2 linked regions of the Homo sapiens genome follow. The protein of the gene in region 1 purifies or fractionates together with the protein of each later gene. This does not show direct contact. Each region holds a gene or a part of one and is shown in the gene's direction. Other genes may lie near its edges. The genes, in order: LETMD1 and CPVL.

What was found.
Region 2: the proteins of LETMD1 (region 1) and CPVL purify together in Homo sapiens (affinity purification with mass spectrometry; 3 studies listed by BioGRID and IntAct, with this or other methods). This does not show direct contact.

What each region holds. Positions count from the first base shown.
Region 1 is NC_000012.12:51,051,300-51,058,620, forward strand, and holds part of LETMD1 (LETM1 domain-containing protein 1), read left to right. Parts: intron 1-788; exon of another isoform or gene 789-792; coding exon 793-908; coding exon of another isoform or gene 909-947; intron 948-2,478; coding exon 2,479-2,561; intron 2,562-4,535; coding exon 4,536-4,722; intron 4,723-4,844; coding exon 4,845-4,946; intron 4,947-5,050; coding exon 5,051-5,203; intron 5,204-6,706; coding exon of another isoform or gene 6,707-6,732; coding exon 6,733-6,829; intron 6,830-7,304; exon of another isoform or gene 7,305-7,321. UniProt on the Homo sapiens protein: Plays an essential role for mitochondrial structure and function, as well as thermogenesis of brown adipocytes.
Region 2 is NC_000007.14:28,996,264-29,003,584, reverse strand, and holds part of CPVL (probable serine carboxypeptidase CPVL isoform b precursor), read left to right. Parts: intron 1-2,200; exon of another isoform or gene 2,201-2,256; intron 2,257-2,529; exon of another isoform or gene 2,530-2,616; intron 2,617-7,321. UniProt on the Homo sapiens protein: May be involved in the digestion of phagocytosed particles in the lysosome, participation in an inflammatory protease cascade, and trimming of peptides for antigen presentation.

The sequences.
Region 1 (7,321 bases):
AGGCTGAGGCAGGAGAATTGCTTGAACTCAGGAGGTGGACGTTGCAGTGAGCCGAGATTGCGCCACTGCACTCCAGCCTGGGCGACAGAGCAAAACTCCATCTCAAAAACAAAAATAAGTGTTCCAGGCCGGGCGCAGTGACTCATGCCTGTAATCCCAGCACTTTGGGAGGCCGAGGCAGGTGGATTGCTTGAGGTCAGGAGTTAAAGACGAGCCTGTCCACATGGTGAAACCCCATCTCTACTAAAAATGCAAAAATTAGCCAGGCATGGTGGCACACGCCTGTAATCCTAGCTACTTGGGATTCTGAGGTGGGAGAATTATATAAACCTGGGAGGTGGAGGTTGCAGTCAGCCGAAATCGCACCACTGCACTCCAGCCTGGGCAACAAAGTGAGATTCCATCTCAAAAAAAAGAAAAAAAAAGTTCCAGAAAGGAGATTAAATTAATATCTGGCTGGGGAATACATAGGGTTAATTTAGCAAGACTTTCTGAAGTTAGGGAGCTTGATTTTTAAAAAGGAGTGACCAGTGAAACAGAAGAGGGAGACCATTCCATAGCAGATTACAGAAGCCAAATGTAGCTAGAAGAGAGGCGATGTGCTAGGGGAAAAAATGTTGAGAAAAGAGATTCGAGTTGACCTCAGGAGTTTCAAGTTACCTAGTTTAAAGCTTTGAGTATCGTTGGGGAGGGGTGAGAGTGTTTGCATGTGATTGAACATGGAGTAGGAAGCTGTGGTTAAGATTTAAACTGGGATAACATCACACTCTGTCCTCTACTTTAATGAGGCAGGATTGCAGATGTTATGGGCTGATGCCAAAAAGGCTAGAAGAATAAAGACAAATATGTGGAAGCACAATATAAAGTTTCATCAACTTCCATACCGGGAGATGGAGCATTTGAGACAGGTATGGGCCAGGGGCAGATATCCAGAAGTTCATGGTGAGGTAATTACATTTAATCAAGATCTCAAGGTTTTTTCTTTCATTTGTTGTTCACCATTGATCAAGCTTTTGCCCTTTGCCGTGAGAACAAAATATTGAACTGAATGAGGCATCAGATTATTTGTAAGAATTGGGTTCATCCAGAGTTGTAGCCCTCCATAGCAAGAGCTCCATAGAATTTCTGGCACACTTTCTGAATGAAAGTTGTAAATACTAAAATCTAATTAGTTTCTGAACATAACAAAAGTCTGCAAGGGGGCTGGGCGCGGTGGCTCACGCCTGTAATCCCAGCACTTTGGGAAGCCGAGGCAGGCAGATCACGAAGTCAGGAATTCGAGACCAGCCTGGCCCACAAGGTCAAACCCCATCTCTACTGAAAATACAAAAATTAGCTGAGTGTGGTGGCGGGCGCCTGTAATCCCAGCTACTCGGGAGGCTGAGGCAGGAGAATCGTTTGAACCCGGGAGGCAGAGGTTGCAGTGAGCCAAAATCATGCCATTGCACTCCAGCCTGGGTGACAGGGCAAGACTCCATCTCAAAAAAAAATAATAATAAAATGAAAATAGAAGTCTGCAAGGGCAGCCAGGCACAGTGGCTCTCGCCTATAATCTCAGCATTTTGGGAGACTGAGGTGGGCGGATCACCTGAGGTCAGGAGCTTGAGACCAGCCTGGCCAACATGGTGAAACCCCATCTCTACTAAAAATTCAAAAATTAGCTGGGCATGATGGCAGGCGCCTGTAGTCCTAGTCCCAGCTACTCGGGAGGCTGAGGCAGGAGAATTGCTTGAACCTGGGAGGCGGAGGTTGCAGTGAGTGAAGATCGCGCCACTGCACTCCAGCCTGGGTGATAAGAGCAAAACTCTGTCTCAAAAAAAAAAAAGTCTGCAAGGATCCAAAGGGCAGCATGAAAGTAGTATTTGGTGGTGACTTGATGGGTCGTTTTGAAGCTGAGAGTAAGAATCTAGGACCCATTCCGCAGATCAGGAAGAGTTCACTGAAGGATTTGGTATAATGTCAGGCTCTGTACTAGACATTATTTGGGATACAAAAGTAAATAAGTCAGAGGTTTTGTCCTCAAGGAACTAACCATCCAGAAGTAAATAGAAATAAACTTGGGGACCACATGCAGTGCTCATGCCTGTAATCCTAGCACTTTGGGAAGCCAAGGCGGGCAGATCACTGGAGGTCAGGAGATTGATACCAGCTTGTCCAACATGGTGAAACCCTGTCTCGACTAAAAATACAAAAGTTAGCCTAGAGTGGCGGCTTATGCCAATAATCCCAGCTACTCGGGTGGCTGAGGCAGGAGGATCACTTGAACCCAGGAGGCAGAGGTTGCAGTGAGCTAGGATTGCACCACTGCACTCCAGCCTAGGTGACAGAGCAAGACTCCATCTCAAAAAGAAAAAGAAAGAAATTTGGTCCTTTTTCTGGGCTGTAATAGAAGTTTACTGTACAGTGGGGTGGATGGATTGTCTATTGTATTAACAACTTATTTGGGTTAAAACTGCATCTGTGTTTATTTCTGCTTAGTTCCGCCAAGACGTCACCAAGTGTCTTTTCCTAGGTATTATTTCCATTCCACCTTTTGCCAACTACCTGGTCTTCTTGCTAATGTGAGTACAGACTTCCATCTCCCCAACATCTTGAAGATGTATCAATTTTTTTAAATTAAGAATTACTTTAAACAGCACTCATTTCAGAAGATAGGCAGAGGTTATCAAACTTCTGCTCCAATCTTCTCATTATTCCAAGGTTCATAAAAACCACTTAGGAAGACCTTGGTTACTGTGACACATCACAGCTATAAGTGTAGGTGGCCTAGACTCTCCCTATCTCTTAGCTGCCCTGAGTCATGTGAAATAAGATAGTGACCTTCTCCATCATCCCTAGAGGCTCTCTCCCCGAGAGAGAGTACTTTTAGACTAATTTCTTTAGGAAAAGTACATTTCGTATTCTGATAACATTTTTATTACTTCATATCCAAAAATGACATTTCTTAACTGTGATCTTGCATGTCATTCATTATCTATTGCTGTATAACAAATAACTTCAAAGCTTAATAGCATAAAACAATCGTATAAATCATTTTCATGATTTTGTAGCTCAAGAATTAGGGCAGTGCTCAGGTGGGCAGTTGATTTCTCTCTTCCATATAGGGTTGACAGAGGTCCCTTAGTGATATTTAGCTGCTGAATGGACTAGTCTGGAAAGTCCAATATCACTCTTATGTCTGGTGCCCTGGCAGGGATGGCTACACGGCTAGAACTGTCAACCAGAGTGCCCAGATGTGGCTTCTTCAGTATGGCAGCCTCAAGATAGTGGGACTTCTAACTTGGGAGCTCAGGGCTCCAAGAGTGAGGGGTTCTAGTAAGAATCTACATGACTTTATAACCTTGTCTTGAAGGTCACATAGAGTCACTGCTGCTCTGTCCTATTGATTGAATCAGTCACCTAGAATGAAAAAAGGGCAGGATGTAGACCTCAGCTCTCCATGAGACAAGTGCCAGAGAATTTGAGGTCATGTTTTAAAACCACCAAACACGTAGATAAATAAATTAAAAAACAAATCGTGGCCAGGTGCAGTGGCTCACGCCTGTAATCCCAGCACTTTGGGAGGCCGAGGCGGGCAGATCACAAGGTCAGGAGATTGAGACCATCCTGGCTAACACAGTGAAACCCTGTCTCTACTAAAAATACAAAATACTAGCTAGGCGTGGTGGCGGGTGCCTGTAATCCCAGCTACTTGGGAGGCTGAGGCAGTAGAATCGCATGAACCCAGGAGGCAGAGGTTGCAGTGAGCCGAGATCGCGCCACTGCAGTCCAGCTTGGGTGACAGAGCGAGACTCTGTCTCAAAAAAAAAACAACAAATCAGTTGCCTTTTACATACTGGGTCCACATAAGGACTGTGCTATAGTTAGATTGTCAACATCACATATAGTGTCCTGGTCAGGCTGCAACTCTCTCCAAAGCATGCTCTTCACATGCTTTAGTTCAAAATGAGTCATTATATCTGATTGCTGCGTGGCAGGCTATTCTGCTAGTCCTTCCTTTCACATCCCATTTCAGTAATGGTGCTTGAAATTGTGCTTCAGTGTGTCTTATAAACTTTGGTCTGAGAGTCACTTAAGAGAAAGGGCTGACTGTAGTGGCTCTCACCAGTAATCCCAGCACTTGGGGAGACTGAAGCAGGAAGATTGCTTGAGACCAGGAGTTTGAGACCACCCTGGGCAATATAGCAAGACCCGTCTCTGCAAAAAAATTAAAAACTTAGCCAGGCATAGTGGCCTGTGCCTGTAGTCCCAGCTACTCAGTAGGCTGTGGTGGGAGGATTGCTTGAGCCTAGGAGGTCGAGGCTGCAGTGAGCTGTGATCTTGCCACTGTACTCCAGCCTGGGTGAGAGAGGGGACCCTGTCTCTTAAAAAAAAAAAAAAAAAAAAAAAAACTGAAAAAGAAAAAGAACACTGAGGTAGGGAAATAGTGTCTCCATCTCTTCTTCCTAGTATTCATGTCTACCAAATGCTTTCTTTGGCTTCCTCTGAAAGAAGCCAGTTTCAGCAAGTGAGTTTGTGATTCTTTCTCCTTTCAGGTACCTGTTTCCCAGGCAACTACTGATCAGGCATTTCTGGACCCCAAAACAACAAACTGATTTCTTAGATATCTATCATGCTTTCCGGAAGCAGTCCCACCCAGAAATTATTAGTTATTTAGAAAAGGTCATCCCTCTCATTTCTGATGCAGGACTCCGGTGGCGTCTGACAGATCTGTGCACCAAGGTATTCCTGCAGTTAACCCTTCCTACAAATGTGGAATCTTGTTAGATTCAGTGTGCACTAAACTAGGTAAGAGGAGTAGTCAGGACTTTCCTAACATCTACAAATCTCTTACCTCTTCCAAGATACAGCGTGGTACCCACCCAGCAATACATGATATCTTGGCTCTGAGAGAGTGTTTCTCTAACCATCCTCTGGGCATGAACCAACTCCAGGCTTTGCACGTGGTGAGCACTTTGAGGGCTTCTCTTTTCCATAGCATCACCATGTTTCAGGTGTTTGCTTGAGCTCATACTATTTGCCTTTCCCCTCCTATGTGGTTGTGTTACAGAAAGCCTTGAGCCGGGCCATGCTTCTCACATCTTACCTGCCTCCTCCCTTGTTGAGACATCGTTTGAAGACTCATACAACTGTGATTCACCAACTGGACAAGGCTTTGGCAAAGCTGGGGATTGGCCAGCTGACTGCTCAGGAAGTAAAATCGGTAAGAGCTTGATTGCAACATCAACCCTCAACCCTTGGTGTGCTTTTGAGCCTATGGCAGGCCGGAGGTTTACAGGGGCTCCTTGTCTTGTTTGTTTATAGAACCCAGCTTCTTTATTCTCTCACTTCATTTATTTATTTATGATTTATTTTTATTTATTTATTTATTTTGAGACAGAGTCTCATTCTGTTGCCCAGGCTAGAGTACAGTGGCACAGTCTTGGCTCACTGCAACCTCTGCCTCCCGGTTCAAGTGATCCTCCTACCTCAGCCTCCCAAGTAGCTGGATTACAGGTGTGCACCACCACGCCCAGCTAATTTTTTGTATTTTTAGTAGAGATGGTTTCACCATGTTTGCCAGGCTGATCTCAAACCCCTGGCCTCAAGAGATCCATCAACCCAAAGTGCCGAGACTACAGGTGTGAGCTACCGCACCCAGCATATTTATTTATTTTTCAGTCTCACTATTTTAACCAAGCTGGTCTTGAACTCCTGGCCTCAAGCAATCCTCCCATCTTGGCCTCCTAAAGTGCTGGGAATACAGCCGTGAACCACTGTGCCCGGCCTTTTTAAAAATTATTTTTTAATTAGCCAGGAGTGGTGGCACATGCCTGTAATCCCAGGTACTTGGGAGGCTGAGACATGAGAATTGCTTGAACCCAGGAGGTGGATTGCAGTGAGCCAAGATCGCACCACTGCACTCCAGCCTGGGTGATAGAGTGAGACTCTGTCTCAAAAAAAACCCAAAAAATAAAATAAAATTATTTTTTATTTTTGTAGAGACAGGGTCTCACTATGTTGCCCAGGCTGGTCTTGAACTCCTGGGCTCAAGTGATCCTCCCGCCTTGGCCTTTCAAAGTGTTGGGATTACAGGCATGAGCCACTGCGCCCAGCTCCTCACCTCATTTCTGTGTCTTTTTTCTCAAGAAACTTAGCTAGGGGGAAGGAATTGCCCACAGAAATTTTGGTTTGTATTTCTTTTCTTCTGGCACTTCAGAAAGCAAGGATACTGCAGTTTAGACCTACTATTTTAGCTTATATAGGACTCTTTGCTTTTGTCATCTTGTCCATCACTAGTTTTCAAATTGCCATGAGGAAAGGCTTCATGTGGGAATGAGATTGTAACTTTTTTTTTTTTTTTTGAGACAGAGTCTCGCTCTGTTGCCCAGGCTGGAGTGCAGTGGCATGATCTTGGCTCACTGCAACCTCCGCCTCCCAGGTTCCAGTGATTCTCCTGCCTCAGCCTCCCGAGTAGCTGGGACTGCAGGTGCATGCCACCACGCCTGGCTAATTTTTGTATTTTTTAGTAGAGATGGTGTTTCACCATATTGGCCAGGCTGGTCTCCAACTCCTGACCTCGTGATCCGCCTACCTCGGCCTCCCAAAGTGCTGGGATTACAGGCACGAGCCACCGTGCCCGGTGAGATTGTAACTTATTTAAAGGAGATTTAGGATTGTTTGTGGATTTCCATTTCCTTGGCATAATCATTCTATGATTATTAAGGACCATTTCTGTTCTGAGTGGTATAGGCTTGTTATCTCCGTGGCCTGAATTCTACGCATATTGGTGAAGATAGGTGTCGAACTTGGCTGGGAGAATGGCTGCAGATTTCCTGCAGCCTGAAAGGTAAAACACATTTCTGTGGTTATACCACTAAAATCCAAGTCACTTTTGTATTTTATTCTGAGGTCATTTTGGAGTTAATTATTGAGTACTGTGAGACATATATATACATACATCTAATTGAAAGGGCACAAACTCACATGCCTACTGCATGCCCGGCAGGTAACGAAGTAGGCCATAAGACAAGAGGGAGTAGTGGGGACTGTGGAAACCTAAGAGTGAATGCATGCTAGTGTGAATTTTCCAACCTTGGCACTTCCTTATGGGGGGAATATCCTGTGCTTTATTTATTTATTTATTTATTTATTTTGAGACGGGGTTTCGCTCTTGTTGCCCAGGCTGGAGTGCAATGGTGCGATCTCGGCTCACCGTAACCTCTGCCTCCTGGGTTCAAGTGATTCTCCTGTCTCAGCCTCCCAAGTAGCTGGGATTACAGGCATGCACCACCACGCCCAGCTAATTTCGTATTTTTTTTTAGTAGAGACCAGGTTTCTC
Region 2 (7,321 bases), on another chromosome or scaffold:
ATTGATACTCCTTACTTGTGTTCACATATGTAAATTCTCAGTTGCTGTTCATTCTCCTCTGCATTTTCATGTTTCCATTACGGATAATTTTCCTTCTGTCTGAAGAACAGTCTTTCGTACTTCTTTTAGTGCAGGTCTGCTGACAAAAACCTTTTCCAATTTTTTGTTTCCTTGAAAATATCTTTACAAGGTCTTCATTTCTATACAAGTTCTAGGTTGGCAGATATTTTATTTAAGAACTTTCAAGATATTATTTCACTGTCTTCCAGCTTTCATTGTTTCTGTTGAATAGTCAGTTTTCTTGCTGCTTTGAAGGTACTGAAAGTACTGTTTCCTTTTCTGTGACAGCTTTTAAGATTTTCTCTGTCTTTGCTTTTAGCAAAATGCTATTCTCTCTGTGTGTGTGTGTGTGTGTGTGTGTGTGTGTGTGCACATACACATACTATAGTGTAATATACTATTACTAATATACTATTATGTGTACTATGATGTGGTTAGTTTGCTTTGTGTTTATTCTATCTAGGATTCATAGAGCTTCTCAAAACTGGCTTGGTAACTTTTGTCAATTTTGGAAATTTTTCAGTCAGTATCTCTGAATGTTACTATTTGTTTCTTTTGCCCCATTTCTTCCTTATCATTTTATCCTAAAATTCCAGTTAAACATAAGTTAAATGTTTCATGGTTTCATGTCGTCTTCTTCTTCTTTTTTTTTTTTTTTGAATTTTCATACCTTTATTCTCCATGCTTCAGTCTGGATATCCTCTACTGACCTAACTTCCAGTTCATATAGTGTTTCTTCTGCATGCCTAATCTATTGCTAAAACATCGATCGAGTTCTTAATTTCAATGAACAATGAATGAGTAACTTTTTAGTTAAAGAACTTCCATTTGATTCTCTTGTATATATTCTAATTATCTTGTGAATTATTTTTCTATACCTAACATCTTGCATATTTTGTTCACAGTTACTTTAAAATGTGTACCTGGTAACTCTAATATCTGGATCATTTGTGGTCTCTGTTATCTTTTTTTCTCCTTAAATTTTAGTCATTGCTCTTGTTCTTTGTCATGCCTATTAAATTTTATTAAATGTTGAAGAAAATGTACAAAAAATATATGAAGAAAAATGTTATTTTTCTTCCAAAAGGATTTAATTTTTTCTAGAAGGCATACAGAGTAGAGGCATATCACCTTGATAAAGTTTGGGATTGAGACGATTGATTCAGTGCTTGATTTCAAGGTTTGTGAGGACTAACCTGTTTCTGGTTTGTTATTACTTCCAAGGCATTGTCTTTCACGGATCTGATGGAAAGCCTGCAGTGCTTACCAGTGCTGTCCCTCCTTGACAGGCTTGCAACTCCAATTTTTTGTTGTTGTTGTTTCTTTTGGGGTTTTCTTTGTTTTTGTTTTTTGGTCTCTCAAGCACCGTAAGACTAATGAGCTTTTCATTCTCTTATCTGCCGCTTTTGACTTGGCGTCTTGGTCAGAGAAGCTTAAAAATTGGTGAATTTCCCAAAGGGAAAAGCAGCACAAAATGTTAGGCTCACTTCCTTGTGATTCCCTTTTCTCTACGATCATGGCCTCTCTCAAGGCTTGGTTGCTCTCTGATACCTTTAAACAGCTTATTTTCTTTTTAATTCAGCTTCTATTGTTTTCTGTGGAATAAGATTGGTTTGGTACATGCTATTGTGTCACAGTCAGAAGTGGAAGTCCTAAATTACAAACAGTATTGTTGCAACTGATTAAGATGGTGTACATAGGAAGCCCCTTGGGGATGTTGTAAAGGAGCACCAAAAGTTTTAACTGCTCTAGAATATGTACCATTATGATGGCTACATGTGGGTCTCCTGAAGCACCTAGAAGCTCCTTTTCTCATTCTATTCAATAACCATTTGCTACACCAGAGGTGTACAGTGGGAGACCTCAAGAATCGTTTCCCTGAGTGCTGTTGAAGCAACTCCCAGCCTTGATCTCTGCTGTTTTTTCATTCTTTCGAAAGTGACTTATTGCATTCTTTGTTAGGAAGTGTCTGCTAACAAGCTTTGGCTTGTTTTTTATTCTCGTTCCCAAGTACCTTTTCAATATATTTTTATTTGAATGCTATTTACGTTATTTCTACTTATAGTTAGTGTCTGAAAGCAAACTAAAAGATAAGATTTAGTAAATGTGGAATGGCATAAAAGTAGTGAAAAGAACTTACATGTAAATCAGAAACCACAACAAGCAGATTCTCTTGAGGGTATGCATCTTTCTATACTGGAAAGCAGAAACAATAAACCAATCCTACATATTCTGCCTGCCAAACTTGCAGCTCCCATGTGGCTCTTTTCTCTTTCCTGGTGAGTAGCACCACCTTTGCAAATCTGCCCATGTCAGAAGCCTGAAATGGGGAGGATTTGTTGGGGATGGGTAGAGAAAGTCTCACTTAACCTTTATATCGGATTAATCACTGATTTTATTGGTTCCATCTTACTACCCTCTTCTCCTTCCCCTTCTCCCCATCCCTCCCATGAGCCCACATCCTCTCACCTGATTTGGTAGTCTCCTAATTTGCCTCCTTGTACCAGTATGACTCCCTTCCAAATTAGCCTTCTCCTTAGACATTAAGTCATTTTTCTACAATGCAAACATAAGCATGTCACTACCCTACTTAAAACCCTCTAGGATATATCCAGAATAGGCAAGTCTATAGAGACAGAAAGCAGATTAATGGTTGCCAGGGGCTGATGGGGAGAGGGGGAGTGGGAAGTGATTACTGATGTATATGGGTTTCCTTTGGGGTGGTGAAAATATTCTGCAACAAGATAGTGTGAATATACTAAATGCTACCGAATCATACGCTTTAAAATGGTTAAAGTGGTAATTTTATGTTAAGTGTATTTTACCACAGTTGCTTTTAAAGCCCGATAGGATAAGGTCCACTCATCCCAGCATGTCACTTGGGGCATCACATGGTCCCACTAGCGTTTGCCTGTTCATCTGTCTCTTCTGTTTCCCTCTATTCCTGCATGAATGGGACGACATACAGACTGCTGCATGCGCCCGCAGCTTCACGGCCCCTGCATTTCCACACAGAATTTCCTTTGTCTGCGGTGATCCCTCTGCTGCACGTGCCCACAGTTTCATGCCCCTGCATTTCCATGCCTCCTGCATTTCCACGCCTCCTGCATTTCCACACACAGTTTCCTCTGTCTGCGGTGATCCCTCCACCCCCACCCCACCCACCCACCACTCTCCGTCCAGTGATCTCCTTCAAGACCCCCAAGAAGCTTCCCCTGACACATCTACATCAACAAGCCCACTGTGAACTTCCCTCTCTTTTCTGTCATCTAAACAGGCACAACTGGGAAACCTTTACTGGCAGGTCTTTGTTTCTAGTTCCAGGGAGAATTATATTGTTTTCTAAAAAATAAAGTGGAATGAAGCTTTAAAGTGTTTGTATAACCCTGTTGAAATTCATGACACATTTGTGACCCCCTGGAACATCTGGAACACATGAAGTTAGAGGCTGCAGCTCTAGTGTGGAGGCACCCAAAATAGACAGTTCTATTCAGGGAGCCCTGAGATTAATCTTGTCACATTTAAATACGTAATTACAGCCCTGACACATTTTGTTACTCACCTCTAAAAGCTGCCAAGTGGTCTGTTATCTTTGATTTGTGAATGGTGAGTGGCTTGATTATAAACAAGAGTGGTTTATTTTTCCACACTCAAAAATATATTTATTTTTGAAGTTAATATCAGTAAAATGCTGTATGTGAATCTGCTTAAGAATATGCTTTGTTTGGGAATTTTGTGGCATGTGAAACAACTTTGTCCCTTAACAAGCTTTCTCTTCCCGCAATATTAATGACACAATTTACAATGCCATTAGGGTCATTACACATGGCAGCTCAGAAATTGGACCAGGGTCAGGTAGGTCACTGAGAGGAAGAGTAAGAACACCTGACCCCTTCAGCGCTCCTTCACCACTTGATAATTATGGACAGGGAAGGTGTGTGTGAGTGCGCATGTGCGTGAGTAAATACCAGGAGAGCGGATACCCAGGAAGTGAGGTCATGAGTAGGTATTAAACAAATTTCTACTTGTATTCATGAGTAGGTGTTAATCAAATTACCTTGATGTAAACAGAGAATTCCCTGGTTTGCCACAGAGTAGAAAAAAATTCTCAACAGTGGTTTTCAACAAGCAGTTGGAACAACAGCATCAGCATTGCTTTGGAATTGTTAGATATGCAAATTCTTAGGCCCTGCCCTGGACCTTCCGAATTGGAAAGTCTGGAGGTGATGCCTCACGATCTCTTTTAATGAGCTCAGGTATTTTTATGCACGTTCAAATTTGAGAGTCATTGTTTTGTTTTTTCGTTTGTTTTTGAGGTGGAGTCTCACTCTGTCGCCCAGGCTGGAGTGCAGTGGTGCCATCTTAGCTCACTGCAACCTCTGCCTCCCAGGTTCAAGTGATTCTCCTGCTTCAGCCTCCCCAGTAGTTGGGATTACAGGCGTGCATCACCATGCCTGGCTAATTTTTTTTTTTTTAATTTTTAGTAGAGGCAGGGTTTCGCCATGTTGGCCAGGCTCTTTCAAACTCCTGACCTCAAATGATCCGCCCACCTCAGCCTCCCAAAGTGTTGGGATTACAGGCATGAGCCACTGCACCCAGCCAAGAACCATTGTTTTAAACAACCTTTTTTAAACCAAGGTTTTTTATGAAAATGTAGGAACACCATGTTCTAGGGTAGTTTAGGTTCATATAAGCATATATACATATATATTCATTTATATTTAGAGATGGGATCTCCTTTTGTTGCCCAGGCTGGAGTGCAGTGGCTCAGTCAGCTCACTGTAGCCTCAAACTCCTGCAATCAAGCGATCCTCCTGATCTCAAGCAATCCTCCTGATATAGGCATTTTGATTCTGGATTTTCAATATAGATAAGTGTTGGAAGAATAACGAAAATGACCAATATTTACTGAAGACCATCCCAGGCCGGGCACTGTGCTAAGTATTCCAGGGACATTATTCCACTAACTCCTCACACAACTCACAACTACCCCACGAGGTAATACTTGTTTCCCAATTGTAAAGTAAAGGAACCTGAGGCTCAGTGAGGTTAAGTTCCTTGCCCAAGGTCACACAACGTGCAGTGCCTCTTGCCATGCTCCTGCACTCTGACTTCTGAGCCCAGGCTGTGAAGCACTGTGCTATCCTTTGTTTGTCCTTTGTTAGCTGCAGCACTGGTTCTGGGGGCAGGATGACCTTTAGCTCTTGGGTATTCAATTTATTGGTGTTCCGGACCATTGCTGCCAAACTCATTTCCAGTTGAAGCAGCTGGGTTTTGTCACACATATGACTTTGTTAAGTGTCCTCAGCTGAGCTGAAGCTGCACAGAAATCACTCATCAGATTCCTGCCAGGGCCAAAGATATGGATGAAAATCTGCAGGAAGAAATGTCTAGCCTGGGATTGCGGGGCGGCAAAAGTTTCCCTCTGGAGTCCTATGAAGGGGTTCTTGTCACACATGTTTACTTTCAGTTTGTGATAAAAAGTGGGCATGCTGGGTTTCCAGTTGCAAGCTTCTACACAAATGGTAGATGGGTTTCACAGTCATTGCAGTGAGGCACAAATGACCATTGATCAACTGCAGCAAAACACAAAAGTTTCACATTTGCATGTGAAAGAGTTAAGTCTGGTCCCACATCTGCAAATGGGATCTGCCTCCCTCACTGTAATATGTGAAATACAAAAATACAGAAAATTATGTTTATATCTGCAATAATTTTTTTCATCAATAAACCTCAGAGGGCTATTGAGAGGTGAATAAAAATGTTCCGTGACTAAGCTGCAAATTTCAGTTCAAAGATAAGGAATGATTGAGTAGAGGGTTTGATTAAAAACACCACACCGGTGTTTGCATCAGAAGTCAGGGTTCTAGCTAGTTATCTCACTTAACAATTGTGTGACTTGGACAAGCCACTGAATAATTCCAAATAGCTCAGTCATCTCAATGCTCATGTGAATGGTGCTCCCTGTAGTTGTTCAGTGCACAGCTTGTATAGCTGCGAGCTGCAAGGTAAATATCATCTAATAGTGTTAATCCTACTTACTGCACGTCAAGGTTGTAAGATGGAGGGTGTTGGGATATAGGGGCAGATTTTCAATATAATAAATGTACTATCCAAATATACTTTTTCTGCCTCAGTTTCCTTCAGATTGAGACAAGTAGAAGAACCCAGCCTCTTAGGAAGGGCCTTGTGAAGGTGACCTTTAATTGCTGATCGTGATTCTGCAGCTAGAAGTTACTGAAAGTGATGTCCTTTTTGCATACGTTTATTCACTTCATGCACTGGTACCTCCTGTCCATTCTCCACATATGGAACGAGACATCTCAGGCCAGGCTGACCTCTCCTGCATGTAACTTCCCAACACTCAGTGTCAGTCCTTGCCCTTTTGGCACTGAATCATGACAGCTTCCCGTTTCCCTCTACTTGGAATATTAGCTGACGCTAGAGGCTTAACGAGTACAGAGACCAGTCCCCTTTTGCTGATTGGATCTCATCATTAGAGATGTTTTAGGAATGCTTTATATCACCCAACAAGGGCTTGGGTTACGTAGGTGTCTGCATTTGTCAGAACTGGTGAGTCTACACTTAAGACTAGCGCATTTCATTGTATCTTAACTTGACTCAAAAGAAGAAAATCTGTAAACACATGTTGAACTCTGATGAATAATGTGATGCTGAAGTGTGTGGGGGAAGTGCACTACATGCCCATTTTACTTTGAGATGTGTCAAAAATATAAGATGGATTAGTGGATGGGTGTGGGATGCATAGAGGCACCCTTATGTGAGAAAGCAAGTAAAGTGAAAGTTCATGACTCAAAATCGTCACTATATGAATTGTTTTCGAATTTGCTATGTTTTAAAATGTTTTATAATCCAATATTAGGAAAAAAAAGAATGTTCTAACTCTATGCTGCTCAAAACATGACTTTCTTTCATTTCAAGTGTCAAGTTTTTTGTTTTGTTTTTTTTTTTTTTGTTTTTTGGTTTTTTTTTTTAAGAGATGGGGTCTCATTCTGTCAACCAGGCTGGAGTGCAGTGCATGTGGCATGATCCTAGCTCACTGCAGACTCCAACTCCTGGGTTCAGGTCATCTTCCTGCCTCAGTCAAGGATGTTTTTGGTTTTTTAATTTTTTTGAGAACCAAAATTTCCCCTTCATTACTGATAAAGGCTAAAATGGAAGGTATGGCTCAGTGTGAGGGACAATTGGGCTGGCTAACTGAAGGGTGGAATTAAGTAGACAATCCACCCCATTGCAGGCA